4 linked regions of the Homo sapiens genome follow. The protein of the gene in region 2 purifies or fractionates together with the protein of the main gene of each other region. This does not show direct contact. Each region holds a gene or a part of one and is shown on either strand. Other genes may lie near its edges.

Evidence for each region.
Region 1: the proteins of CUL9 (region 2) and HADHA purify together in Homo sapiens (affinity purification with mass spectrometry; 2 studies listed by BioGRID and IntAct, with this or other methods). This does not show direct contact.
Region 3: the proteins of CUL9 (region 2) and GLMN purify together in Homo sapiens (affinity purification with mass spectrometry; 4 studies listed by BioGRID and IntAct, with this or other methods). This does not show direct contact.
Region 4: the proteins of CUL9 (region 2) and SH3BP4 purify together in Homo sapiens (affinity purification with mass spectrometry; 2 studies listed by BioGRID and IntAct, with this or other methods). This does not show direct contact.

What each region holds. Positions count from the first base shown.
Region 1 is NC_000002.12:26,199,617-26,206,647, forward strand, and holds part of HADHA (trifunctional enzyme subunit alpha, mitochondrial precursor), read right to left. Parts: intron 4,689-7,031; exon of another isoform or gene 4,581-4,688; coding exon 4,446-4,580; exon of another isoform or gene 2,704-4,445; coding exon of another isoform or gene 2,617-2,703; intron 1,705-2,616; coding exon 1,533-1,704; intron 1-1,532. UniProt on the Homo sapiens protein: Mitochondrial trifunctional enzyme catalyzes the last three of the four reactions of the mitochondrial beta-oxidation pathway.
Region 2 is NC_000006.12:43,220,173-43,225,095, reverse strand, and holds the end of CUL9 (cullin-9), read right to left. Parts: intron 4,638-4,923; coding exon 4,497-4,637; intron 4,350-4,496; coding exon 4,185-4,349; intron 3,939-4,184; coding exon 3,775-3,938; intron 3,412-3,774; coding exon 3,318-3,411; intron 2,804-3,317; coding exon of another isoform or gene 2,781-2,803; coding exon 2,706-2,780; intron 2,566-2,705; coding exon 2,455-2,565; intron 2,318-2,454; coding exon 2,200-2,317; intron 1,833-2,199; coding exon 1,699-1,832; intron 1,002-1,698; coding exon 928-1,001; intron 847-927; coding exon 651-846; 3' UTR 509-650; downstream 1-508. UniProt on the Homo sapiens protein: Core component of a Cul9-RING ubiquitin-protein ligase complex composed of CUL9 and RBX1. The CUL9-RBX1 complex mediates ubiquitination and subsequent degradation of BIRC5 and is required to maintain microtubule dynamics and genome integrity.
Region 3 is NC_000001.11:92,260,959-92,267,989, forward strand, and holds part of GLMN (glomulin), read right to left. Parts: coding exon 6,955-7,031; intron 5,784-6,954; coding exon 5,742-5,783; intron 5,636-5,741; coding exon of another isoform or gene 5,582-5,635; intron 5,535-5,581; coding exon 5,461-5,534; intron 3,681-5,460; coding exon 3,596-3,680; intron 2,775-3,595; coding exon 2,665-2,774; intron 1,969-2,664; coding exon 1,905-1,968; intron 1-1,904.
Region 4 is NC_000002.12:235,045,998-235,053,028, forward strand, and holds part of SH3BP4 (SH3 domain-binding protein 4), read left to right. Parts: intron 1-6,564; coding exon 6,565-6,753; intron 6,754-7,031. UniProt on the Homo sapiens protein: May function in transferrin receptor internalization at the plasma membrane through a cargo-specific control of clathrin-mediated endocytosis.

The sequences.
Region 1 (7,031 bases), on a different chromosome or scaffold from region 2:
TTGTGACTTGTTTTTATCAACACAATGCAGCAGAAGTTACCCTGCCAGTTCCAGGCCTACCTAGACCTGTGGGGCCCGGTAGCCTCTTTTTTTATTTTTTAAATTATTTATCTTTTTTTCTTCCTGACAATAAACTTAGGAAGCTCAGTAGCTTCTGCTTTTGTTCTCTTGGAAGCCTGCAGCCACGCTACAAAGAAGTTGTGGTGAGACGACTAAGTGAGGATGGACTATGAGAGATGTGGGGGAAGCAGTGAGGTGCCCCAACCGAGCTTCCTGCGGAATGCAGCCCAGGAGTGACCCCAGCCTTGAAATCAATGGACTTAAGCACCACTGTCTCTGCAGAGCCCTGCCCAGATTGCAGAATTGTGAAAAGATAGTTGTAAACACAGCAGTAGAACACGGAGACATGAGGAAGATACTAGAGAGGACAACCGAAACGGGGTGGTCTAGAGATCATGCCTGTGGAAGATTGTCCAAGGAATGGGTTTTGTTAGCTCTATGGGCAATAAGAGAAGATAATGTTTGTTTGTTTGTTTATTTATTTATTTTGAGACGGAGTTTTGCTCTGTGGTACTCTTATTTTTTGTAATGAGCTCACTGCTCATTATATCCAGCATGTTGCCAAGTCAGAATCATTTCATGTTCACCTTTCAGTAACCCACATTCTGTTTATCCAACTGTAGACTAGCTTAGGCCTTGGTCCTACCTCATCCCTGAATTACTGCTATTACTCCTTCTCGGGGCTTACTCTTCCTACTCCCCACTTCAAGTACTTGTTTTGTTCATGTCAGCCCATCTCAAGAAGTGCCTATGGAGAACATTTGGGAGCTGGGCCAAAGCAGCATTTCCACAGAACAAGCATCTGGACGAACTGTCTTCCCTATTTCCTTTGCAGCCTTAGACCTGAAGAGGTTTGTTTTTGGCTTTCGGCTAACCAAAAAATCTCAAAGCATCTGGCTATACTCTGTGAGGTTATCTGTATGTTTGGGTGACAGAGCTCCTACATGAATAAGGTGAACGCACCCTCATTTTCTTCCTTTAGAATTTAGATTTGACCTTTATAACATATGCAGTGTGCATGAGCACACATAAAAACTTAACGTTTGATAACAAAAAGTCTTTTTTTTTTTTTTGGAGATGGAGTCTCGCTCTGTCACCCAGACTGGAGTGCAGTGGCGTGATCTCGGCTCACTGCAACCTCTGCCTCCCAGGTTCCAGTGATTCTCCTGCTTCAGCCTCCCAAATAGCTGGGACTACAGGTGTGTGCCACCATGCCCGGCTAATTTTTGTATTTTCTAGTAGAGATGGGGTTTCATCATATCGGCCAGTCTGGTCTCGAACTCCTTACCTCGTGATCCGCCCACCTCAGCCTCCCAAACTACTGGGATTATAGGCGTGAGCCACCATGCCCAGCCTTTGAATAGTCCTTTTTATAAAAGCAATCATGAGTTTCCTATAGCTCCTTTAAAAAAAAAATCTCTGTGTTTTCTGTTCACTACACTAGGATTCAAGTACAACAGCCCCTTGCTTACCGCTTCTACTTCCTTTAGCACTCTGTGCTTAAGACTAAGGTCCTCAAACACAGCTTCAATCACCATGTCGGCCTTTTCAAAACCTTGGTAATCAAGCTGCCCAGTCAAGTTGCTGAAGATGGAATCCCTTTCAAATGATGTTAGAGCTTTCTTCTTCACTTTGTCATTCAATCTAGAAAAAACACATTCCTAGTTAGATGGGAAGAAAAGGAAACTAACGTTTATTGAATGTCCATGGGCCAGAGCACACCTGTGTTTTTCACCAACTCTGTGAGGTAGTTATTCTATTACTCCCATTTTGAGGGAGACTTTCAAGTTGTTTAGTCTTAGAGGGACCTGTGGTCAAATAGCTTGATAAGGGAGGGTGCTAGCATTCAAAGACATGTTAACTCCCAAGTACACATTCTTTCTACCATAGAATGCCTCCAAATGCCCAATTTACGTAAACTAAATCACTCTTAAACCAGTTAAATTTGCCAAGAGGAGTAAATAACATGAATACTAGAATGGCAAAACAAAAGAGGAGTTCTGGTAATTCTCTACCTATGACAGGGGAAGCAGCCAAAGTGTGTCTGAGACCACATGGTTTATATTTGCTTATCGCAAATATATAATTTTATGTTATTCTGTAGTTGTAATCTTTTTTTTTTTTTATTTATTTTTTGAGACGGAGTCTCGCTCTGTTGCCCAGGCTGGAGTGCAGTGGCGTGATCTCAGCTCACTGCAACCTCTTGTCTCCTGGGTTCAAGCAATTCTCTGCCTCAGCCTCCTGAGTAGCTGGGATTACAGGCGCCCACCACCACGCCTGGCTAATTTTTTTTTTTTTTTTTTTAGTAGAGATGGGGTTTCACCATCTTGGCCAGGCTGGTCTTGAACTCCTGACCTCGTGTTCCATCCGCCTCAGCCTCCCAAAGTGTTGGGATTATAGGCGTGAGCCACCGCGCCCAGCCTGTGGTTGTAATCTTCTAAAGAACAGAGACCAAGCATTATTTCCTATATTCTCCATCTACTTCCCACTCATTACCTAGTAGCACATTGCACTGATTACATAAAATATTAACTCAAGGTTTCTTTTTTCCCATAGGGAGCAGAAAAGGATTCCTGTTATTCAGACATTCAACTGATTATTTTTCGTCGCCAAGGGAAACAGGTTCTCTTAGATTCCGTCTGACCACACTTTCAGAATAAATTACCTACAGTTTTCCTCTAAATGAAGAATGAAGCTAAACCCCATTCACTAATTTCCTTAACCAAAAGCAAAATTAAGGCCACAAGATAAATACAAAGGAGTATTCAAAGAAGGTCTTAAGGGCTGGGCATGGTGGCTCACATCTGTAATCCCAGCACTTTGGGAGGCTGCAGCAGGCGGATCACTTGAGGCCAGGAGTTCAAGACAAGCCTAACCAACATGGTGAAATCCCGTCTCTATAAGAAAAACAAAAATCAGCTGTGCATGGTGGCGCATGCCTGTAGTCTCAGCTATTCGTGAGGCTGAGGCATGAGAATCGCTTGAACCCGGGAGGCAGAGGTTGCAGTGAGCCAAGATTGCACCATTGTGCTCTAGCCTCGGTAATAGAGTGAGACTGTCTCAAAAGAAACAAAAACATCAAATAAGGTCTTAAAAGTATGGGCTCAAAGCTTTTGTTTTTGACAATCATGACAGCAGTCAGCAAACAAGATACTTGTCAGCATTCAAAACATTATCAGTTGCTCTAATTCTAATGCCTGATTAAACTATTCCCAAGAGAGGACAGGAACTATTGTCCCAAGTCAGCAGTGTGGTGAGCGGCACTCGCCAGAACCTGATGTTTCTAAGACGAAAAGGGGAACCCAGGACACTATTCAAGAGAGACTGGGGGAGGAAACTATTTTAGAGCAACAATTTCTTACTTTGGTGATGGTATGGAATGCTGTTTGGGATGCTTGCATGCTAGTTTCAGGGCACTGCTGCTATCTAGCACACATCATTTTTTTGGTCAGAATCTTCTACTACAACTTGTTATCTTACAATAATCTGCCAACACGATGAAACCTGCCAGGTCCTGGTTAGCATTATGGCAGCAATATGTGAGCTTCTCTGCAGAAAAGGGATAACAACATGCTTAAGCTATCTAATCCATTTAAGAAACAAAAAAGCTCACTCAGCTAAAAGTCACATGCAGGATGCTTTAAGTGCAGCCAGCTTGTCCATTAAATGTGAGCAGAAAACTGATCAAACCAACCCTCCATTTGGCCAAGCTGCTGCTCCACCTTCCCCTCTGCAAAACAGGCAGCATGTGTGTGATGGTGAGAGAGGCAGGTGGTGAGGAAGGGGAATAATATTCCCCCTTTATTAATTCAGAGGTAAGATGGAGATAGTCTGTAAAGCCCCAGACACTGTGGAGGGATCAGTTCATGGCTTCTCTCTGTAATGCCAGTCAGGAAATAAAAGTCTGAAGAGTCCTGATCCCGGCCCTGCCTTCCCCCTGCAGTTACTGCCCATTTCCTTACATCCTAACCTCACTCAGTCTTCTCAACAGAGACAGTCATGCTGTTTGAATAATCCTTAACAATAGAGCAATTACCTGCAAACTATATCAAAATCCGCAGGCCTGATACGAAAGTGTAAAATGGCATTAACAAGTATCTACTAGATAAGATTTTCCCTTCTGCATTCAAAGACTACAGACTCCAAGGATGTTAATTGTCTATGATATCTATAACAAAACGAAGTCAAAGAAGGAATTGGCATTTCTAAAAATCAAAAGAAACTTGGCTTCACTACGGAGTATCTAGAACTCATTATGTTCAGGAAAAAGGAATCCGTGATGGCAAGAACAAACAAACAAAAAAACCCACCAAGCCACCACAAAAAACAACTAACCAAGAAACAAAGGACATTCTAACTCTTGCAAAGAGAGAGAGCAGGCTTACCCTTTGAACACTTGTTGCTGTCCTCGGTCTAGCGCAGTGAGGGTGGCATCTTTAAGTATAGTCTTTAGCCCCTTATCCACGGAGACTTGGGCGATGCCTGCTCCCATCAGCCCTGCACCAAGAATAGCCAGATGCCTGCAAGGCAAGGATGAAATGACTTTCGGTAAACTGATCTTAATCATTTCAGTCAAAGTGGAAGATTGCCTAAGTTATTCAATAAACCAACTAATGCAGGCACAACTATAAGGTGTTTCAAATAATTTTTATTTATTAAAAACACAGCTTTAATAAATGATTGATCTTAAAAGTTAAGTGCAAAAACCCACCAGGTCTAAAAGAACTGGTCTACCCAAGAAGACAGAATTATACTAATCTTCAATCATGCTTCGAAATCACTGAAATCAAAACAACCAGTTTACATTTAAGTCAACATGAGTATTTTTGTTTTTCGAACAAAAAGACCAACCTCTTTTCTTATTGAACAACTTATTTGTTAGTGATTTTGACTATCTGCCAGTCATCTTTCTTTCTTTTTTTGAGAGACATGGTTTTGCTCCCTTACCCAGGCTGGAGTGCAGTGGTGCAATCCTAGGTTTACTGCAGCCTTGAACTCCTGGGTACAAGTGATCCTTCTGCCTCAGTCTCCTGAGTAGCTCGGACTAAAGGTGCATATCACCACTCCTGGCTAATTTTTAAGTTTTTTTGTAGATAGGGTCTCACTATGATGCCCAGGCTGGTCTCGAACTCCTGGCCTGGCCTCAAATGATCCTCCCACATCAGCCTCCCAAAGAGATGGGATTACAGGTGTGAGCCATCGTGTAATCTTTCATTTCCCCCAAAATCTGTGCCTTTATCACTCCTCGTCTGGATGAATTCAAAGTCTCCTCCATGGTCTCTTTGCTTCCAGACCTTATCCCTTCCTTAAACACTTCCACATATGCACATTGCTACCTTTTTTTGCCCCTGAATTCCTCTAGAACTTCTCAGGACGACTTGATTTACCCCAGAGTATCCTGGAATGGCTTCGTGTCCATTATTTGTCTCCTCAATTAAATTCTAAGCCTTTTGAGGACCAGAGATCATATCTGCTTATTCATTTTAGTTCCCTATAGTTCTGGAATAATTTGCCATATTCCCATAGTAAATAACTAAGAAAAATTTTTAAAGAATCTCTTCATAAAAGAAGCCCAAGTTTACAGCACTGTTATCCAAATTAGAGTTGAAATGAGGGATAAAGTTTCATTCTTAACCATTCTGATTGTAATGTTCAAAAATCATACTAAAGTCCTGAAAAGGAAATCTAACTTCAAGTCCTAGGAGCATCTTCTAAATGCAGCTTTGTAATGGTACAAATATTTATATGGTGAGTGATAAGTAATTGCAGGACAATGAGAAAATACAGTAGAGAAACAAAAAATAGGGACTGAAAAAAAAGACTGATACATTTGCTACATCAAAATTAAAAATTTCTGTTTTGGCTGGGCACAGTGGCTTACGCCTGTAATCCCAGCTCTTTCTTTGAGAGGCCAAGGCGGGCAGATCACAAGGTCAGGAGTTCAAGACCAACCTCACCAAAATACAAAAATAAAAAAATTAGCTGGGTTTGGTGGTGTGCACCTGTAATCCCAGCTACTCAAGAGGCTGAGGCAGGAAAATTGCTTCAACCTGGGAGGCGGAGGTTGCAGTGAGCTGATTGTGCCACTGCATTCCAGCCTAGGTGACAGAGTGAGACTCCATTTTTTTTAAAAAAAAAAATTCTGTTTGACAAATGAACCCACAAAATTAAGACAACCATAGAATGGGAAGAATTTGTGACATATACAGCAGACAAAGGATACTACTGGAAAAACAGAACATGCATATATCAATTTAAAAAGACAACGAAATAAAATGGGCAAGGGATATAAAGCAATTCATAAAAGAACAAAACAAATTGTCAGTAAAGATGCTCAATTTCAGCCAGGCACGGTAGCTCATGCCTGTAATCCTAACACTTTGGGAGGCCTAGGAGGGAGGATCGCTTGAGCTCAGGAGTTTGAAACCAGCCTGGGCAACACAGTGAGACCTCATCTCTATTATGAAAATAATAATAATAATAAAAAGATGTTCAATTTCCCTAATAACTGGGGCAATGCAAATTAAAATGAGATGCATCAGACTGGCAATTTTTTTTTTTTTTTTTTTAAGATGGAGTTTCACTCTTGCCGCCCAGGGTGGAGTACAACGGTGCGATCTCAGCTCATTGCAACCTCTGCCTCCCAGGTTCAAACGATCCTCCTGTCTCAGACTCCCGAGGAGCTGGGATTACAGGTGCCCACCACCACACCCAGCTAATTTTTGTATTTTTAGTAGAGATGGGGTTTCACCATGTTGGCCAGGCTGGTCTCGAACTCCTGACCTCAGGTGATCCACGCACCTCGGAATCCCAAAGTGCTGGGATTACAGGCGTAAGCCACCACACCTGGCCAAAAATTTTAAAGTATCAGTTAGGATGTACAAAAAATTAGTTCATGCATGGTTCACGGAAGTATACTTTGTCCTACTTTTGGGGGGGTTCTTTGGTTTTGTTAAAACCAAGAACTGCAT
Region 2 (4,923 bases):
GCGGATCACCTGAGCTCAGGAGTTCGAGACCAGCCTGGCCAATGTGGGAAACCCTGTCTCTACTAAAAATATAAAAATTAGCTGGGCATGGTGGTGCATGCCTGTAATCCCAGCTACTCAGGAGGCTGAGGCAGGAGAATCGCTTGAACCCATCAGGCAGAGGTTGCAGTGAGCCGAGATCACACCATTGCACTCCAGCCTGGGGGACAAAAGTGAAACTCCATCTCAGAAAAAAAAAAAGAGTTGGGAGGATGGTTGCTCCTGTGGGTGGCCATCCCTCTCTCTGTCTCCTCTGAACTGGGCTGGGGCTGCACGTGGCCCTTTCCATGCCAACCTTCACTTCCCTTTATCAGCTTAAGTCAAATGAATCTGCTCTGAGCCTTCTCGGAGGATAGAAGAGTCCGGAGGTCTAAAGGAAACATAAAGATGAGGGGTGTGGGTAGATATGAGGCCAGGGCAGTGGCAACTTGGCTGGCCCCTGGTGAAGCTGTCAGCCTGCTCCCAGAGATGTGTGTGAGAAAGAGACCTTTATTCAGCAAACAGGAAGCACTACAGACGCTGGGAATCCCCCTCCCTATGACAGGGGCAGCTCCCGCCCCCTCAGCCCCGTGACTCTGGGGCTGCTCTAGGTGTTTCCTGCATCTGCCCCCTCAGTCATAGGCCTCATCTTCATCCTCTTCCTCATCACCAAAGAAGAAAGTCTCTTGGTCCAGGTTCTCAGACTCATCGTAGGAGAAGCTGTCATTGTCCAGCTCCTCATCAAACTCATCCTGCTGCCACTCGGGCACATCATCCTCATCGTCTTCCTCCTCCTCTTCTGCCTCTGGCCCTGAGGAGGCCTGGGGCCTAGGGAGAGCCACCACACTCAGCCCAGAGGAGGCTGCCATGTCCCACTGCCTCCTCCATGGCTCTGCCCACCCCACTTACTGACTGCCAGGCATGTTGGGTCCTTTTGCCTCCCAGGCCTCTACTGATGGACTCTGAAGACCAACCCGGAAATCCTGGTGAGCAGACAGAAGGATTTGAGAAGGAGGTAGAGGGCATGGGGCCTTTGGACCCAGCATTCCTTCCACTGATGCTCTGGGAGGGCCAAGCTCCTGCTAGGACTGCTCCCCTCCCAGCACAGCACTTCATGAAACACTGCCTTTGTGAGTTCACCCACAGATGGTCTCCAGGGATACGGGGTACCAGGTGAGGCACACGACCCTGTGCTTAAAGAGCTTACAGAATCTATGTCTTTTCTGCCCATGTGACTTACCAGTCAGTAAGCAACCTGAGGACAGGACTCACAGTTTAGACTCAGCATCAGTGCATTAGAGCTGGAGAGAGCCTGGGAGAGCCCTTGCTCCAGTGACCCCAATCCCCTGATGCCCACTCTTAGGATTTCAAATCCCTATCTGGGAAGTACAGTCTGGAAAAGTTCCCCAAGTGATTCTGATAGGCACCTGACCAAATACCCTTGATGTGGGCTAGCCAACCCCTTTATTTTGTAGGAATCCCCAGGAGGTGAAGTGATAGGGTCCAGCAGCATCAGGCAGGTTGGCCCAAAAGCCGGGATGTGCGCCCAGGTCTAACATCCATTCACCCGCTTTGCTGCCTTTCCTTCTGGACTCGCCCCAGGGCAGGGGCTGTGCTGGGACAGGAGGACCTCAACTCCCGCAGAATGCAGGAGCAGAAGGGGTCTGGGCCGGGCAGTACCTGGGCAGAATGCTGCAGGATGGCAAGCAGCCTCTCCTGGATCCGCCGGAGCAGCTCCATGCCCGTGCTGAGGCAGTCGGCCCGCAGGAGGCGCAGGGAGGAGGCCAGGTCTCTGCACCGCAGCAGGGTTTCCTCTGCAGAGGGGGCAGGCACAGAGGCTCCCTCCCTTCTCATTCTCATCCATTCCTTCCTCCAACAAACACCTATGGAACGTCTACCAAGCACCAGGTGCAGCTCTAGACATTCTCATGAAGCTCCCTAGGGGAGCAGGGTAAAGACCAGAAACCAAGAAACATCCACGAACATCTGCGCCCTTGGGCACCTTACAATGTAGGCTTTCGACCTGAGCTTTAACAGCCAGGCAGTGAGAAGGCCATGAAGAATGAAGAGGAAGAGGAGAGAGGGAAGGTAAGGGTGCCGCTTGACCTGTCTGGGAGGGGCCGGGCTGTGCAACAGAGGGGAGGAGGCAGGAGGAGGGCCTGGCTGGCAGGGGTGGCTCACCCAGGAGGATCTGCAGGGCATTGGTGTGCAGCTCCAGGTTCTCTGTCTGCTGCTCCACCACATCCATGTACTCTGCGTCCTGGCTGTAGAAGCTGTACACGCAGGCGTAGGCCAGCACCTGCAGGGGCTCCCATCAGCTCTCCCGCCTGCCCTCTCCTCATTCCCTTCACCCAGGCAAGTCCGATGAAAGCAGCCAAGCCCCCCAGACCCATTTGGCACACCCCTCCCCTGCTCTCTTCCCCCACCCGCTACCACCTTCCGAGCCTGCTCCAGTCCCTGGCAGGCATCATTGAGGAAGGTGAAGGATCTGGGCGGGGGCACTTCATGGATGGCAGACACCCGGTTCCGCAAGTTCACAGCAAACTCCTGTGTGGAGGAAGGTGTATCAGTACCAGCACAGGTGGCGCAGCACCACCTGCCCGGTCAGACCTTCAGCCCACCCCCCTCCACCCCACCACCCCAACCTGCTTCTGCAGGCATCTACCCGCTGTTTCCTCCCGACTCACCCGCGCCTGGTGATGGAAAGTGCACCTCTCATTATAGTCCTGAAACCGCTTCTCCTGGCGAGCTGCCTTGCTTACCTAGCAAGGATACGTTGGGAGGGCTATTGGGTGTTTTGTTTGGACAGGAGGGAGTTAATAAGTGGAAAAGCCAACATTCACGGAGGCCTTTCTACACCTCCCCCGATTATCTTCATTCAGTCCTCATGACTGTGTGGAGTAGGTCATATTATTCACCCCTTTTGCAGAGGCTGTTGAGGCTTGGAGAAGTAAATGAACTTGCTCAAAGCCACATGCTAAGCAGCAGAGCCAGGCTCTAAATGCAGGGTCCCTGCTCTTTCCTGCTCTGCCCTGCTGCCTTCTGAGAGTGCCCAGCCCTCCCCAGCCTTTCTGTAGCCACCTCGGTATGAGAAGTCCTGTTCTGGAGCTGAAGGTCCCTGTGAACAGACTTTCCAGCATCTGCAGGCCCAGGTGGCTCTGTCTTCCCCACAGTGAGCCTCTATCCCAACAGCTAGAATGCTGCACTGCACAAGGAGCCCTGTCTGCCCAGGACCTGGTAGCAGCACCCCTCCCCGACGGCTCTGGGCCTCTGCCCTCCCCTAGTGCCCAGCGCCTTACCATGGCAGAGCAGTTGTAATAGTCTTTGTGATTTGGCTTCCAGGACTTGAGGCAGCGCCAGCAGAATCCATGGTTACATTTGGCACAGGTCATGCTATGGAGGAAGCTGGCTGGTCAGGGACTCCTGCCTCTGGGCAGGGGTGTGCCAGGAATGCCAAGGGCCCAGATGTACCGCTGTTGATGCTGTGGCCTCTGCTCCTGCCCTGATAGTCTCCTTAGTCATACCCAGCCCTGCTGAATGCACCTCTGCTTTTGAACTCCCCCAGTCAGTGTGGACTTACGAGTGGGAGAAGGAACATTAAGATCCAGGAAGTCACCGTGGAGGCTGCCACGTGAGGGGCGGCTGAGGAACCACCCTCTTTTGCTGAGCTTTACACTAAGCCCGTTCCCCCCTCCTTCTGCCAGGCCTCCTCCCCCCTCCTTGCCCTCTGGCTCCCCACAGTACCCCCCTTCTTACTGCAGGCACCCCTCGTTCTTCTCGATGGGAGCCTGACAGCTGGGACAGCGCTTGGAGATGAGCTTGGCCAGGTGCTTGCTCTGCGCCTCCACGCTCATGCCGTCATAGTAGCCACCGTCGTCGACCCACTGAGACATATGGCCACAGCTAGCAGGGTAGTGTGCCTAAGGCAAGAGGGCATGGTGGGGACACAGCTGAGCCGTGAGGGCAGCATGGCTGGTGTGCACAGGAGAGAGGGGAGCAGGCACAGATCACATTTGGAGGGCTCCAGGAAGAGGAACAGAGCTCAACTGGGTGGCAGAGGCTGAGGAAGGACAAGTCACAGTCTGTGTGTGTGGCGGGGTGGGGATATTAAGCAGGGAAGGAGTGTGAATCCTTGCTCAGGGTCAGGGCCAGTGTGGGGCTCCCACCTCAGGGAAGCTACAGTTGAAGCAAGAGGCCCAGCCACACTTGGAGCAGGTGGTCCCACAGCCCAGGCCCTGGCGGCACAGGATGCGGTCGCAGCCCTGGGGGTTGGTGCACCAGGTCAGGTTGGAGCAGCTCTCCACATAGCCACGCAGGAGCGCCTTCTCATACTGTGGAGACGCAGGTGCCACGAGGTGAGGGTATGGCTCTCCAGGATGCCACACCTCCAGGCCCCCAGCACCCCATAGCTCAGCCCACTCCCTGGGGCACACTCCTTTGGCTCTGCACTGGAGCCTCTCTCAGACGAGAGGGGATACCTTGGAGATGACCTCTGGCGAGGAGACGATGGCACGAATGAAGGCTCCGGTGGGCTGGGCGGGGCAGTCGGCAATGGGGCAGGTGCAATTCAAAACAAGGTTCTGCTCGATCCGAGTTGTCAGGTACTCATTCCAGCAAGACTGGGAGGGACAAAAGGAGGGGCTGCTCACAGACAGTGTGGGAGCAGCACAGGGGGAGTGTCCTGGTAACTAAGCTAGCGTCCCTCCTTCCCTTCCCCTCCACTACAACGTGGAAGGCCAGAAACAAGCCTGCCTCTAGATCAACCAATGCTGACTCCTCTCTCCAGCTTTGCTGAGACTGGCCCAAATTACAGTTGTCTTTGAGGATGGGGTGGGCTGTGTATTTGCCTAATCATAATTACTGTTGGGATGGACAAGGAGGGAATGGGTAAAAATAATTAAGAAA
Region 3 (7,031 bases), on a different chromosome or scaffold from region 2:
CCATATCTAACACACCTATCAATCCTAATCAACAAGATTCCTTTTCTTTTTGTCAGGCAAGTCAGATAATCTCTCAAGTAGGTACAGCCTTTCTTGATTACTAAAAAAATAAAAACTCATACCCTACCCTAAGGCCACCTTCCTGAAGTCTCAGGGCCTCTACTGCTGCTGAATTTTATATTGTAGCTTTTCAATTTTTATCACAAGCTCCTTCAGGAATCAGGATTTAGTTTGTGATTTAGAAAGTTCTGGCCACTGCCTGGGGTCATAGCTATTTCTACCACTTTCCAGATGTTTGCCCTTGTGCAAGTTAATGAACTTTTTTCACCTACATTATCTATGAAAAGTGAAAAATAAAGAGTACTTTTCTTGGTTTTCCATGGTGGCCCATGCCTGGAAGTTACCCCAGCACTTTGGGAGGCCGAGGTGGGAGGATCTCTTGAGCCCAGGAGGTCGAGGCTGCAGTGAGCCATGATTGTACCACTGTAATCCAGCCTGGGCAAGAGAACGAGACGCTCTCTGAAGAATGAATGATATACAGCACTTGGGCAGAATAGTGGTTGTCCCTGGCAGGGGTGAGTAGCACAACGAGGTCAGAATTAACTAGGAAGGGGTATGAGGAACCTCTTGTGATGCTGGAAATGTTCTATATTGATATGGGTTTGAGTAATATAGATCTATGTATTAGTTAAAATTCAGTGAATATACACTTAAAATTTGAACATTTCATTATGTAAATTTTACTTCAAAGAAAAACTACAGACAAATATTTAATCAATGTAATGAAATACATGCTGAAATATTTCGGAGAAAGTATGCTGACGTCTGCAGTTTACTTTGAAATACATCAAAAAATAGACTGACGGAGTGATAGACAGAGGGTGGAGTGATAGATACATGATGAAGTTAGTACAGTAGAATCATAGACTCTAGGTGGTGGGTAAACCAATGATCACTATAAAATTCTTTCAACTTTGCTGTACATTTGAAAAGTTTCACAACAAAATGTTAAAAAAAAATAGCACCTGATACAGAGTAAGCACTAGTCAATGATGGCAAATAGCTATTTTCAGCTGAAGAGGGATGAACGGGGGTTCAAATCACTGAATCTACTATAGATCTGTCAGGAAGGAAAGAGACTGCTACTTTTCTCATAAACCTTCATCCCAAATCACGATTTACCTAATTTAAAAAAAATTTTCTTTGGCATCTTTATATAAAAATGAATTACTAAAAAAAAACCAATTAACAACACATGATTCAGGTAGTTCTAGCTAATAGAGGTGACACATATAGGGAAAGCAATGATCAGAACAGGGTAGAAAGAGAAGATAAAAAGCAAATATAATTTTACTGTATGACAAATCTCCCTCAAATAGTTTTCTATTTATTGAATACTTCTCTATTTATTGAATACTTCTAATGATGTGCTATTTTTAAAAAATCCAACTTCCTAAACATATCTAAAAGGTGCTGTTAACAAATTCTGTTTTAGTGCTGAAAATGCTTCAATTTGTCATGTCTGATGAGGCAATATTAAAATATCAGATGATTTTATACAGCTCATGAGCTATAGGTGGAGGAAACTGAACAAGACACCATATGTACGTTGAGCTCCACAAGGTTAGTTGACTTAGGACCTGCAACTTATCCACCCAACAGGACTAAGTGCTTTCAGCAAGAAAGCAGACGTACAATAGGAAATGGAAAGGGAAAGGAAAGCTGGATGTGGGGTGGTAAATGCTCCTGGGAATTAACTTCAGGTTTCAGAATAATTGTTGGCACTCTTCCCGGCCTTTATATCTGGGTAAGATATTAAATATTGGCTTTAGGTACTGAATATCTGAAACATTCCTTATGCCTTTTGAATATACTCACAGTTTCTTTTCAAATACTTCACTTACTTGATTGTCATTTTCATTATCTTTGATAACCAAATACCTCAATAAATTTAATGAAGCCATAATCCTGTTAATTAAAAATATATGTTACTTACAGTATGGTTTTATATAGTCAACAGCAATCTCAATAAGCTAAAACTTTGGTCATATTTTTATAATTAGGTTTGCCAATAGAAACTATTTCCATTAATATCTTTTTGAGTAGTAATAACTTATCACTGTTTTCCATTTGTTTAAATCATACAATTGTGAAAATTATCATCCTTGTTTAAAGAAAGCCTTGTTATCTTTAATATTTGAGAGCATCATCTCTTGCTTTCTGAATTTTAAGATTACTTTTTAAATGCTTTAAACCATTTCTCAATATCCATTCCAGTATACTGAAACTGAAATTATATGTTCTATATGAAAAAAAAAATGACCTGGAAAACAATAAAACAACAAAACCTAAACACATAAATTACATACACAGATTTTTAGTTTTAAGTCACAAGTGCTGTCATTGCAAATTTCTATGGAATGCTGGGTACATAAAAGCTATCAAATCATAGTGCTGGTCATTCATCTAGAAAGAGGAGGTTTTAATTTTGTTTCTACACATTATCAAATCACTTAAATATGAAAAATCTTTATGTAACTTAATGAATTAGCCATAGATCATAAAATCACAGGAAAAGACATTTTATTACTTTAGGTTCCCTAAGCAGATGTTTCACATTTTATTCTGAATTTACTATGTGAACTTTGGTAATGGTCACCTCACCTATCTGAGTTTTGCAGTAAATCTGTTTCTGCACCCTCTGGGAGAAAAAGTACCAAATCAAGAAGGGAAATCAACTGTGGTCCTGTAAACCATTTGTTGTTACGTGTTCTCTGAAAAGCAAACGAAAAATTGAGAAAGCTTTATAATTCATGTAATTCATGTGTTTTTCTAATACCTTGACACTACAAAAATGAAGAATTGCACATTTAAAATACAGTTTTTAACTTTAATTTCCGTACTTTCATTCACTTTCCAGACACCAGGAACGAACCCTGCCAGTTTGAGAACACTGGTCACTCTGTTTTCCATTTAGAATTACTGAGCACTCAGAAACAGAAGAGACTTAAGTTTCCATTCATTTTTGAGAAGCATATAACAAAGCAAAAATAAGCCACAATATCAGCTCAAAGAGGCCCAGAGTGATGACTCACACCTGTAATCCCAGCATTTTGGGAGGCCAAGGTGGGTGGATCACTTGAGATCAGGAGTTCAAGACGAGCCTGGGCAACACAGTGAAACTCCATCTCTACAAAATCAAAATTCAGCCAGGCGCACTGGTGGACACCTGTAGTCCCAATTACTCGGGAGGCTGAGTTGGGAGAACTGCTTGAGCCCAGGAGGTGGAGGCTGCAGTGAGCTGAGATCATGCCACTGCACTCCAAGCTGGGTGACAGGCGTGAAACCCTGTCTCAAAAAAAACAAAAACAAAAACCAAAACCTCAAAGAATACAATTTAAACTTATAGTTAACTAAATTTCCAAATTCAGAGTTTTTAAAACATAGTAGAAATAGGGGAAAAAATATGCCTTAATAATATTTAAGTAATAGTAATACTAGAGATAGAGCAATAACTCACATTAATGTATTCTACATATGAATAAATATACCCTACGAAATAAATTGGTAATTGACACTTTGGCTATGTTCTTACCTTTAATGACATGTCAATTTGATTTTTGATATTTTGAATAATAAAAGCCTCCACACCTGAGTGATTACTTGTATTCAATAAGCACCTTGAAAGCAAAATTACAATAGATGTGAAATTATCCTGGACAGCATTAGAATTAAATGGTGATAAAAGTTTTACAAATTCAAAGAGGCCATGTGTTACTTCTAGGAATAAAAACCCCACAGTAATGGTAATTAGCAAGGTCATCAACCAATTACAAAGTCACCTGTAATAGTTATTGCTCTCACTAAATGGTAAATTCTTATTTATTTTATTTTACTTTTTTAGACAGAGTCTCGCCCTGTCGCCCAGGCTGGAGTGCAGTGGCACAATTTTGGCTCACTGCAACCTCCGCCTCCCGGGTTCAAGCGATTCTCCTGCCTCAGCCTCCTGAGTAGCTGTGATTACAGGCGCCCGCCACCGTGCCTGGCTAATTTTTTGTATTTGTAGTAGAAACAGGGTTTCACCATGTTGGCCAGGCTTGTCTCAAACTCCTGACCTCGTGATCCGCCTGCCTCAGCCTCCCAAAGTGCTGGGATTACAGGCATGAGCCACCACACCCGGCCGGTAAATACTTATTTATAACTGGATCTTCCAACAAGCCATTTCTATCAAACCAAAATTTGAATATTTTTATGAACATAGTTACAATAATTTAACATGGCAAGAAAGGGCACTAACATAATGGTCTAAAAAATCCCCAAATTATTTCCTGTGAAAGTAGTCCAGTGCTAGAGTAGCTTAATTGCAAAAAAAAAAAAAAAACTAGATATGACTAGCTTAAGAAAAAAAGGGGATTTATTGGTAGAGATACACATAGAACAGAACAGGAAAGCCGGTATAATACCTAAGAATTGAGATTTCATAAACTTGCTCTTACTATCAATAGAAAACAAGAAAAGATAGAATCAAGAGTGTTGGCTGGGCATGATGGCTCATGCGTGTCATCTCAACACTTTGGGAGGCTGAGGTGGGTGAATCGCTTGAGCCCAGGAGTTTGAGACCAGCCTGGGCAACATGGCAAAACCCCATCTCCACAAAAAAATTAGCTGGGCATGATGGCATGCACCTGTAGTCCCAGCTACCTGGGAGGCTGAAGCGGGAGGATCACCTGAAGCTGGGGGGCCAAGGGTGAAGGCTGCAGTGAGCCATGATCACACTGCTGCACCCGCCAAAAAAGAACAGTACTAATATTGGCCAATCCCAGGTAAGACATTTTAGCAAATCCAGCCTGATGCCCAATTTTATCAATAAAGTTTTACTGGAACACACCCATCCCCAATACAAAGTCAAAGTTGAGCACTTGCAACAGAGACTGTATAGCCCATAAAACCTATATTTACTATTTGGCTCTTCACAGAAAATTAATTAGAAAGTTTACCAATCTTTAACTTAGAGAGTTGCTAGAATCTTATCCACCTCAAAGAGCAGTATTAGTAAGCTCTTACTATTAACATAGTGCATAGCCTATCAAAGTTGTAATTCCAGAGCCATCAATTTGAACTGTGAGTAATGGAGATTAGTGACATACATAAAGTTCCAGCAGGAGCATCATCAATCTCAGTTTAATTATTTTTAAGTCTATTTCAAATTTAGAGTATTCCAATTGATTGAACTGCAATATATACTATTAGTCATACAAAATATAGACATATATATAGTATGTCTGAAATATTTGATTAACCCTTTCTCTAGCCATCACTGAGAATTTATAATATGGGTTCCAACCAGAGTTGAATTACATGTAAAACATACCGACATACTATGCCCTAAAACAATTACATGGCATTAACATGACTTTTAATCAACCACACACTTAGCAATTAGCCATGCTTGATACATACCTAAATAATGTATATTTGCCTTGTGAATCCAACTTGTTAATATACAGCTGAAGCATAGCTAAACTCTTTTTCCTCTAAAATGGAACAAACAATATTATTATATAAAATGAATAAAGCTTACCCAGACTTCATCACTATCCATTTTATGCATGTAATACATCCACACTTGTACCTCCTAAATAAAAATTTCACAAATTAAAATTTTTAAAAAGAAAATTAAATTATTTGTCAAATTTTCTCACTGTAACTCATTATTCTTTAGTCACCAAATATTTACATACCAGTGTCTCAATGGGGCAAAGTGTCATTACTTTCACTAAGCCCTGGAAATAAAAAAATGTAAAATTCAGATGTAAACAGATTATACTGACTGCAAACAAACAACTATAATACATCAATAGGATACTAAAAATTCAGAGAAGTGAGGGTAGGAGATTTAAAAGTGAAGTAAATTAATTTTTCCCTAAGCCTTCCATTCCAGAAAGCTAACTACAATTGATTTTTTAAGTGATATTGAGTAGAGTGTCACACAGTGTACTTTTAAAAGCAAACGATAATTTTCAATTATGTCTACAGTGGCAAGAAAATGAAATCAAATCTACAGAAATATAATTTATTAATTAAAAACAATCAAACAATATGTTAACAAAAACCATGTTTTTCTATTTAAATATTAGGAAAACCAGTTCCCACACTGAAATCTAAGGATTTCCTTGGATATCATAACTAACAAAGAGGATTGGGCAAAATAAACCATAGGAGGGAAAAACACAATGTGTATTAGTCTTTCTGGTAATGAGTCAGTGGATGCCTTAGATGGAGTCCTGAGAACTTGAGTTATGAGAAACATAAAGAAGCTTCATTTTCCAAGATCCCTACAGAAATAAAGTGTTAAAAGAAGAAAGTTATGCTTTTCTACTGGATGCTGTGCTATCAATAATGGTGGCCTCTAATAGCTATTCGTGTTTAAATAAATTAAAATTTAAATTTGAAACTTAGTTCCGGCTGGGTGTGGTGGCTCACACCTGTAATCCCAGCACTTTGGGGGGCTGAGGCAGGCTGATCACGAAGTCAGGAGATCGAGACCATCCTGGCTAACACAGTGAAACTCCGTCTCTACTATAAATACAAAAATATTAGCTGGGTGTGGTGGCGGGCGCCTGTAGTCCCAGCTACTCGGGAGGCTGAGGCAGGAGAATGGAATGAACCCAGGAGGTGGAGCTTGCAGTGAGCTGAGATAGCACCACTGCACTCCAACCTGGGCGACACAGCAAGACTACACCTCAAAAAAAAAAAAAATAGTTCCTTAGTCACATTTCAAGTGTTCAGTTTGGCTAGTGGCTTTCATATTGTCAAAGTTCTACTGGACAGCATTACACCAGAGTTTTCAAAGGTTGCAGAGAAAAGAGTGGGAAAGGAATCAGAAAAGACCTTACTTTAAGTTCAGAACAGGCAAAGGGCTATTTTCAATATTAGAATACATATTTTATTTACCTGAGGTACAGTAAGAAAACTCTTGATTTCTAAGTACTGGTAAAGTAGACTATTGTCTTCTATTCTCAATAAACTAT
Region 4 (7,031 bases), on a different chromosome or scaffold from region 2:
CCTTTGCCCCTGCCCCACAAAGTCGTGTAAGATCTGGCCCTACCCATCCCAACCCTGGGGGCCACTGTGCTCTGTGCACCCCTGCCCTGAACACACCCAGCTCGCCCGGCCTCCAGCTCCTGCAGATGCTATGCTGTTCCTCTTCCTGGAGCTCCCTTTCCCAGACCTCCTCATCTCCCTCAGCTGCCAGCTCAAATGCCGTCTCTCCAGGACGTCCTTCTCTGCAGCCCCGCGCACTCCATCATCCTCTGTCTCCATGGTGTTTCTTGAATCAGAAGCGGTTTGTTTTGGCCAGGCATGGAGGTTCACACCTGTAATACCAGCACTTTGGGAGGCTGAGACAGGAGAATCGCTTGAGCCCGGGAATTCAAGACCAGCCTGAGCAACATAGTGAGGCTTCATCTCTCCAATTTTTTTTTTTTAAATCAGCCAGGTGTGTTGGTGTGCACCTGTAGTCCCAGCTACTTGGGAGGCTGAGGTGGGAGGATCACTTGAGCCCAGGAGGTCGAGGCTACACTGAGCTATGATCGCAGCACTGCACTCCAGCCTGGACAACAGAGTGAAACCCTGTCTTGAAAATAAAGGAAGAGAAGAAAAGAAACAAGTTTGTTTATGTTCTTGTGCACTTGTTTCTCATTATTACTCTAACTGAACATAGGTCCCATGAGAGGAAGGGCCCCGGCACATAAGAATCACTGAGGTACTAGATGGATAAGTGATTGAATGAATGAATGATGGATGAATGAATGAATGATGAATGAATGAATGAATGAATGCAGGCCTTGGGCTGGGCTAAGAATCCAAGCGGGAGGCATTCTCACGTGGCCATACCATGCTTCTGTTCTGTGGTTCCATTTCCTCTTTCCATTCTTTTTGTGCCTGTTTTTGATAGAGTCCGTGTGTGAGGCATCCCCGTACCTCTGCCTGCCCCTTCCCAGCAGCATGGCTGTGGCTGCACTCAGAGCACCCCTCTGTCCTGGCCACTTCTCTCCCACCAGAGCCTCTGTCCGTGATGGTGTCAGCTGAAGAATGACAAGGTTTGTTCATTTGGAAAGGAGAGCCTCATTCCTCATAAAGGGTTGCAGCCTGTGGGTGGCTATTCTGACAGGTTGGGAAGCAGAGCCTCCTGCCAGAAGCCAAAAACAGACACTTCAAGGGAGGGGCAAAGGCAACAAGAATTTATGGATATTGGTGGCCAAATATACATATTCAATAAGCCGTAGGGGGAGTCATGAGTATTTATGAAAGGAGAAATGTGCACATTCACATTTAAGCCTTGTGCTCCTTCAGGGGTCCCATGTACAAAAAATGGTGGCAGTGGCATGATTCAAGGGTAGGGTTTTCTTTCAGCCCCCTGATGCGTCAGAGGCGAAGCAGGGGACATGAAACCCTCGCTGTGCATCCTCTGTAGACTGGCCAGAAACACTGCGTGGTCGGTGGGCTCCCGTCAGGCAAAGAGGAGGGGCAGCGTCTGGCAGTGGTAGAGGCCTTTGAAAGGGAACCCAGCTTTTTAAGAATCAGAAAAGTCATTCAGCAGCGCCCTTTTGATGCAAGAGACTATTCCCAATTCTCGGGATACTGTCAGCACTCGGCACATGGTCTCTGTTATGGTGGGGAAGGAAGGGGAGTCAGCTGGAGATAGCCGTGGGCAGTGGCCATCAGCCATGGGAGCAGAAGCAGCCCACGGTGGCCTCAGGCCCAGGGAGAACTTCCTAAGGGGCCAGAGTGAGCTGTCACAACTGGTCCTGGATCCACCATAAGAACGAAGCCGTGGGGTGTGGTGACCTGGAGCCGTCGGTGATGGCTGTAGCAGGGGCGTTTTGGTCAAGTTGCGGGAGGTAGGGAAATAGGCGTGTCGGGCTCTGTAGAGAAGTTTCTATGAGAAAGGGAAGGAGTTGCTGTGGGATGCAAAGCAAGGGAGGGTGGTTGTTTTGGGAGTGGAGTGGGGGCCGGAATAAACCCAAAGAGACTTGAAAACTAACAGAAATAAGGAAGCTAGCAAGTGCATGGGGCGCATTGGGGCGGGAAAGACTGGTGTGGTGTGAAGGGACTCTCTGTGGATTGGGAGAAGACCCACTTTAACCTCCAGAAGAGGAGGAGTTGATGGACAGTGTGCATTGGATGGGGTCCTGAGGGATTCCTCCCAGGCAGCCCCAAAGCCAGAGCCTGTGGCTGTTAATGTGGGAGAGGGAAGGAGGATGGGCCCATTGTCCAGATGCCATGTGCAGAAGGCTTCCCCTCGAGTTTTGGGGCATGTTGGGAAGGAAGCAGGATGGAATAAACATGCAGCAAAAAAGCCTAAATTGTATTTCTTTGTACTTTATAAGAGTATTTTCCCCCGCCCCTTTTTTGAGAAAAGGTCTCGCTCTGTCTCCTAGGCGGGAGTGCAGTGGTGTGATCACAGCTCACTGCAGCCTCGAACTCCTGGGCTCAAGCAGTCCTCCCACCTCAGCCTCCCAAGTAGCTGGGACTACAAGCAGGTGCCACCACACCCAGCTAATTTTTTTTTTTTTTTGTCTGTAGTAGAGACAAGGTTTGATTGTGTTGCCCAGGCCGGTGTGGAACTCATTGAGCTCAAGCTATCCTCCCACCTCAGCCTACCAAAATGCTGGTATTATAGGGGTGAGCCACCATGGCTGGACAAGAATATCTCTTGAAGCAAGTTCCCAGACTCTGGCCGCCAGGCCCGCTATTCCTGTCAATGGCGTTTTGTTGGAACTCAGCCACACCCATTCCCATCTGCATCGTCTGTGGCTTTCAGGCTTCGTGTGTCCCACAAAGGCAAAAGTACTATCTGTCCCTTTATAAAGTTCAGTCACCCTGACTGAAATCATGGTGTACTCACTGTAACAAAATTCCAGTTGAAACCAGGGTAGTGCAGCAGTCCATCGAGTGTTTCCTGGTGTACCTGTGTGCCCATAAAAAGAGGAAGCTGCAAGGATCAAGTTCATAGAGCTAGAGCCTCCTGCTGTGAAATTTTTCTATTGCTAAGAATTGGTTGGCACCCAAAATTTGTCCTTTAAAAATATGCATCAGTTATGCCTTGTTGATGGTGTGGGTGGTTTGTAACAAACTAAACCAGGGCTGGGCTCAGTAAAAGTTGTGTAAGTGAGTGAGGGAGAGATGCCTTCATTCTTGGTGTTGGAAGTGCCGACCTCTCCTTTCATCTGGGATCCATGGAAATGGGACCTTGGCTGCCCCTGGATGGAGTCCAGGCGCTCTCCTTCCCAGGGGCCAGAGAACACCTGTGTTTCCCAGGACCTTGGGGACCTGTGCCCAGTTCCCCTGGGGAGAGAGCGGTTTTGATCACTCGCACCAGGAATGACTCGAGTCAGAAGCAGGTGACTTTGACCTGTTCTGTTACCTAGAAAATGAGGCCACTTTGGAGCCAGGCAGCTGTGCACACAGCCAGATTAGCTTGGTGTGTGCTGAGTAGCCACGAAAGAGCTGAGTTGGGGACATTGAGTGACTTCGTGTCAAACCCTGTGGTGGTCCAGCACACCTTCCCAGGACCACAGACGAGGCTGCCACCACAGCAAGAAAATTAGGATCTGACAGCCTACCAGCTAACTACACACCCTCCTGACACGTGAATACACACGTGTATGCTTTTATCTTCTGAAACAAATCTAGTCAACATTTAATTTTTTAAAACAATTTGTTTTGAATATATCCAAATTCAAATAGAAACAGACCTTCTTCTGAAATATATAAATAGTTGATATGAAGCATAATCCAGACCGGTATTACATTTGGTTCAATTCCCAATTCCATGTGGGGCTCATGGAATTGGGAAGGCCGCTGGCCGAGTGCTGAGAAGTTTGCATATTTGCCTCCACGCCTGTCACTTCCAGCTGTGGGACCCGGGACAAGCCTGGGGTCTGCAGGCTTCCTGTGCTTATCTGTAGAACAGATGCCTTGCGGCCCACACAGCAGGGAGGACCTGGGGTTGGGTGCCCAGAGGCAGCTCTGGCTCTGGCATTTCTCGGTGTGAAACCCACTTCCCCTCTCTCAGCTTCTTCTGTAAAGTGGGTTGAACTCAGCCTCTGCTTCATGGGGGGCTCTGGGGAGCGGAGGAGCTGAGTGTCTGGCTCACAGCAAGCCCTGGGTTTCTTTTTTTTTCTTTTCTTTTTTTTGAGACGGAGTCTCGCTCTGTCCCCTAGGCTGGAGTGCAGTGGCGCGATCTCAGCTCACTACAAGCTCCGCCTCCCGGGTTCACGCCATTCTCCTGCCTCAGCCTCCTGAGTAGCTGGGACTACAGGTGCCCGCCACCACACCCGGCTAATTTTTTTTGTACTTTTAGTAGAGACAGGGTTTCACTGTGTTAGCCAGGATGGTCTCGATCTCCTGACCTCGTGATCCACCTGCCTCAGCCTCCCAAAGTGCTGGGATTACAGGCGTGAGCCACCGCTCCTGGCCTAGCCCTGGGTTTCTAGTAGCTTCTACAAAAACAAACGGCCACCAGGTCCTCAAACCCCCTTCTGGCCAGCCTCGTTGGTAGCCAGCTGTCAGCCTCTCATATCTAGGGAGGCATCAGAATGATCTGTCGCTCCTGGTTCTTTTTAAATTCCATGGATTGAGATGCTGGGGGCCCACCTAGAAGGATCGTGAGTCACCTACTCTGGCTAATGCATGCCACAAGTCGCCAAAAAGGTCACCTTTTTGTATTGTTAGACTCCCCCCAGGTAAACATAAAGTGTACATTAGAATGCTCAGTCTAAAACAGCTGGGCTCGCTTTGAAGTAAGCAGCCCAGCCGACCGCATGAGCACTAGCAAGACGACCCTGCTATCGGCACAAAATAGTTGGCCAAAGAGCGCCGGTACCAGCGGTGTGGTTGGCGGGGGTGGGGGGTTGTTTGTTTTTTAGCACACTTTGGAGTCCTAAAATGACAACCTCAGGTGCTGAAACAGAGCGTAGAGAGAAAGAACGCCAGGACTGGTGACTTTCCTCTTCTCTTAGCAACTCGCCTGTCCAGGGGCTCACGGGAGCCTCAGAAACCGTCTCTGGGCTGCCTCAGGCCACTGTGCCCTGGAAGCCAAGCCTTTCCCATTGTTGGATGAGAGAAAGCTTTAAGGGTGGGGGTGAGCTGTGCCTTCTATGGCAGAGGAGACTCAGACAAGAATCAGACCCAGCATGCGGCTCTCCTGCCTTCCTGGTGACGTCATCCTGACTGGCTCAGAGCCACACGCTAACCATGTGTGGCCTCATTTATAATTAGGATGGCGCCAGAGTCGCTTGCATGACACCCAGTGGCAGTCATGTGACTTGGCACAGTGTACAGGACTAGCAGGCCTGCTGTCTTGTGCTAGCCAATTTGATTTGTTTCTTTAAACCAGAAGTGTGAGTTTGACCCCAGCCTGGGGTCCCCCAGATATATTAGCCATATGTTCAATGCCTGTCCCATCCAGCCCCCGTTTTTAGGAGGGAATTGAGTCCCAAGGCGGCCACGTGGTTGTTCCAGCCTCAGCTGGGACTTCACTGTCCCAGCAGGGCTGTCTGTCCTATTACCTCCCCTCTGACTTCCTCTGTGGTTAGTAATCCCTGTCCTAAAGACACAGTAGAAAGTTCTTGCAGCTTTGACGTGGGAGCAGTCCCACCAATTGTGGAAACCGTTTTCTCATGTTGCACAGTCCTGGGGGAGGTCTGTGCATCTCCTGGTCACCGTGGTTCTTGGTGGTACACCCTGTCTCTGACCAGGGCCTCTTCTGTTCTCTGTCTTCTTCTCCCTGGGTGGTCCCTGCCTGAGTCCCCCAGCCTTCTACCCGCGGTGCTCTCTAACTGGCCAATGTCAGCACCGCACACTCAGCAGGTCCAGCTCGCCCTCCATCCGTCTCGGCCTCAGGCTATGGTGTCTATTTGGTGAAATGCATTCGTTTCTCTCTGGTGTCCCCAGAGAGTGGGAGTGGTGACAACTCTAATCCATATTCACCCTGTCTGTTAGCTTCCTGGGGCTGCCAAGACAAATGACCACAAACCAAGGGACATCAAACAACAGACACCTGTCCTGTCACCATTCAGGAGGCCACAGGTCTCAGTCAGGGGTCCCAGGGTGGCCTCCGTCTGGAAGCAGTGGGGGAGAAGGGGTTGCAGGCCTGCCTCTCCTAAGCCCCACTGGCTCAACCCTCCTTCTTTTCCTTGGCTTGTTGCCGCATCTGTCCCGTCTCTGCCTCCGTCTTCACACGGCCTTCTTCTCTCTGCCTCTCTGTCTGCTTTCTCTTCTTATGAAGACGCCAGTCCTTGGTGACTTCCTCTAATCCAGAGGGACCTCATCTTAATTCTATCTGCAAAGACCCCATTTTCAAGTAAGGTCACGTTCTGAGGTTCTGGGTGGATGTGGGCTTTGGAGGGAGACACTGGTGAACCTGGCACGCTCTGCACATCATCTCTTTTCTCCCGTGAATCCTGGCAGTGATCGATTTCAGGGGACATTTGGTAGTAGGCCAGGGAACATGGAGAATAGAGAGCCCATGGCCATTCCTGCGCCGTCTGCTGGAATTCTGCGGGGAGCAGAGCCTGCCCCACTCCCTACACTGTCTCACGCTGTGTGCCTCTTCCTCTGCAGGCCCTACTGAAGATGGACTGCCAGGGCCTGGTGGTCAGACTCATCCAGGACTTTGTGCTCCTGACCACGGCTGTAGAGGTGGCCCAGCGCTGGCGGGAGCTGGCTGAGAAGCTGGCCAAGGTCTCCAAGCAGCAGATGGACGCCTACGAGTCTCCCCACCGGGACAGGAACGGGGTTGTGGACAGCGAGGTGAGCAGCGGCTGAGCTTCGAGCTCACCGAGCCCCTCTGTCCCTGGGTTCCGTGGACCCATGCAGTGCAGCCATAAAAAGTCTTGCCTCGCGGCATTTCTGTGAGGGTGCAACAGGTGGAAATGTGCACGCATGTGCCCAGCACTGGGTGTGCCTCACTGAGTGGGAGCCATCCTCCGGATTGGTTGTCGTGAGCCCTGGCTTTAGGATGTCAAGGCTGTTCCACACGACATGGGAAGGACAAACAGAACTGCCTGTCCCTTGTTCATTTTGATCTT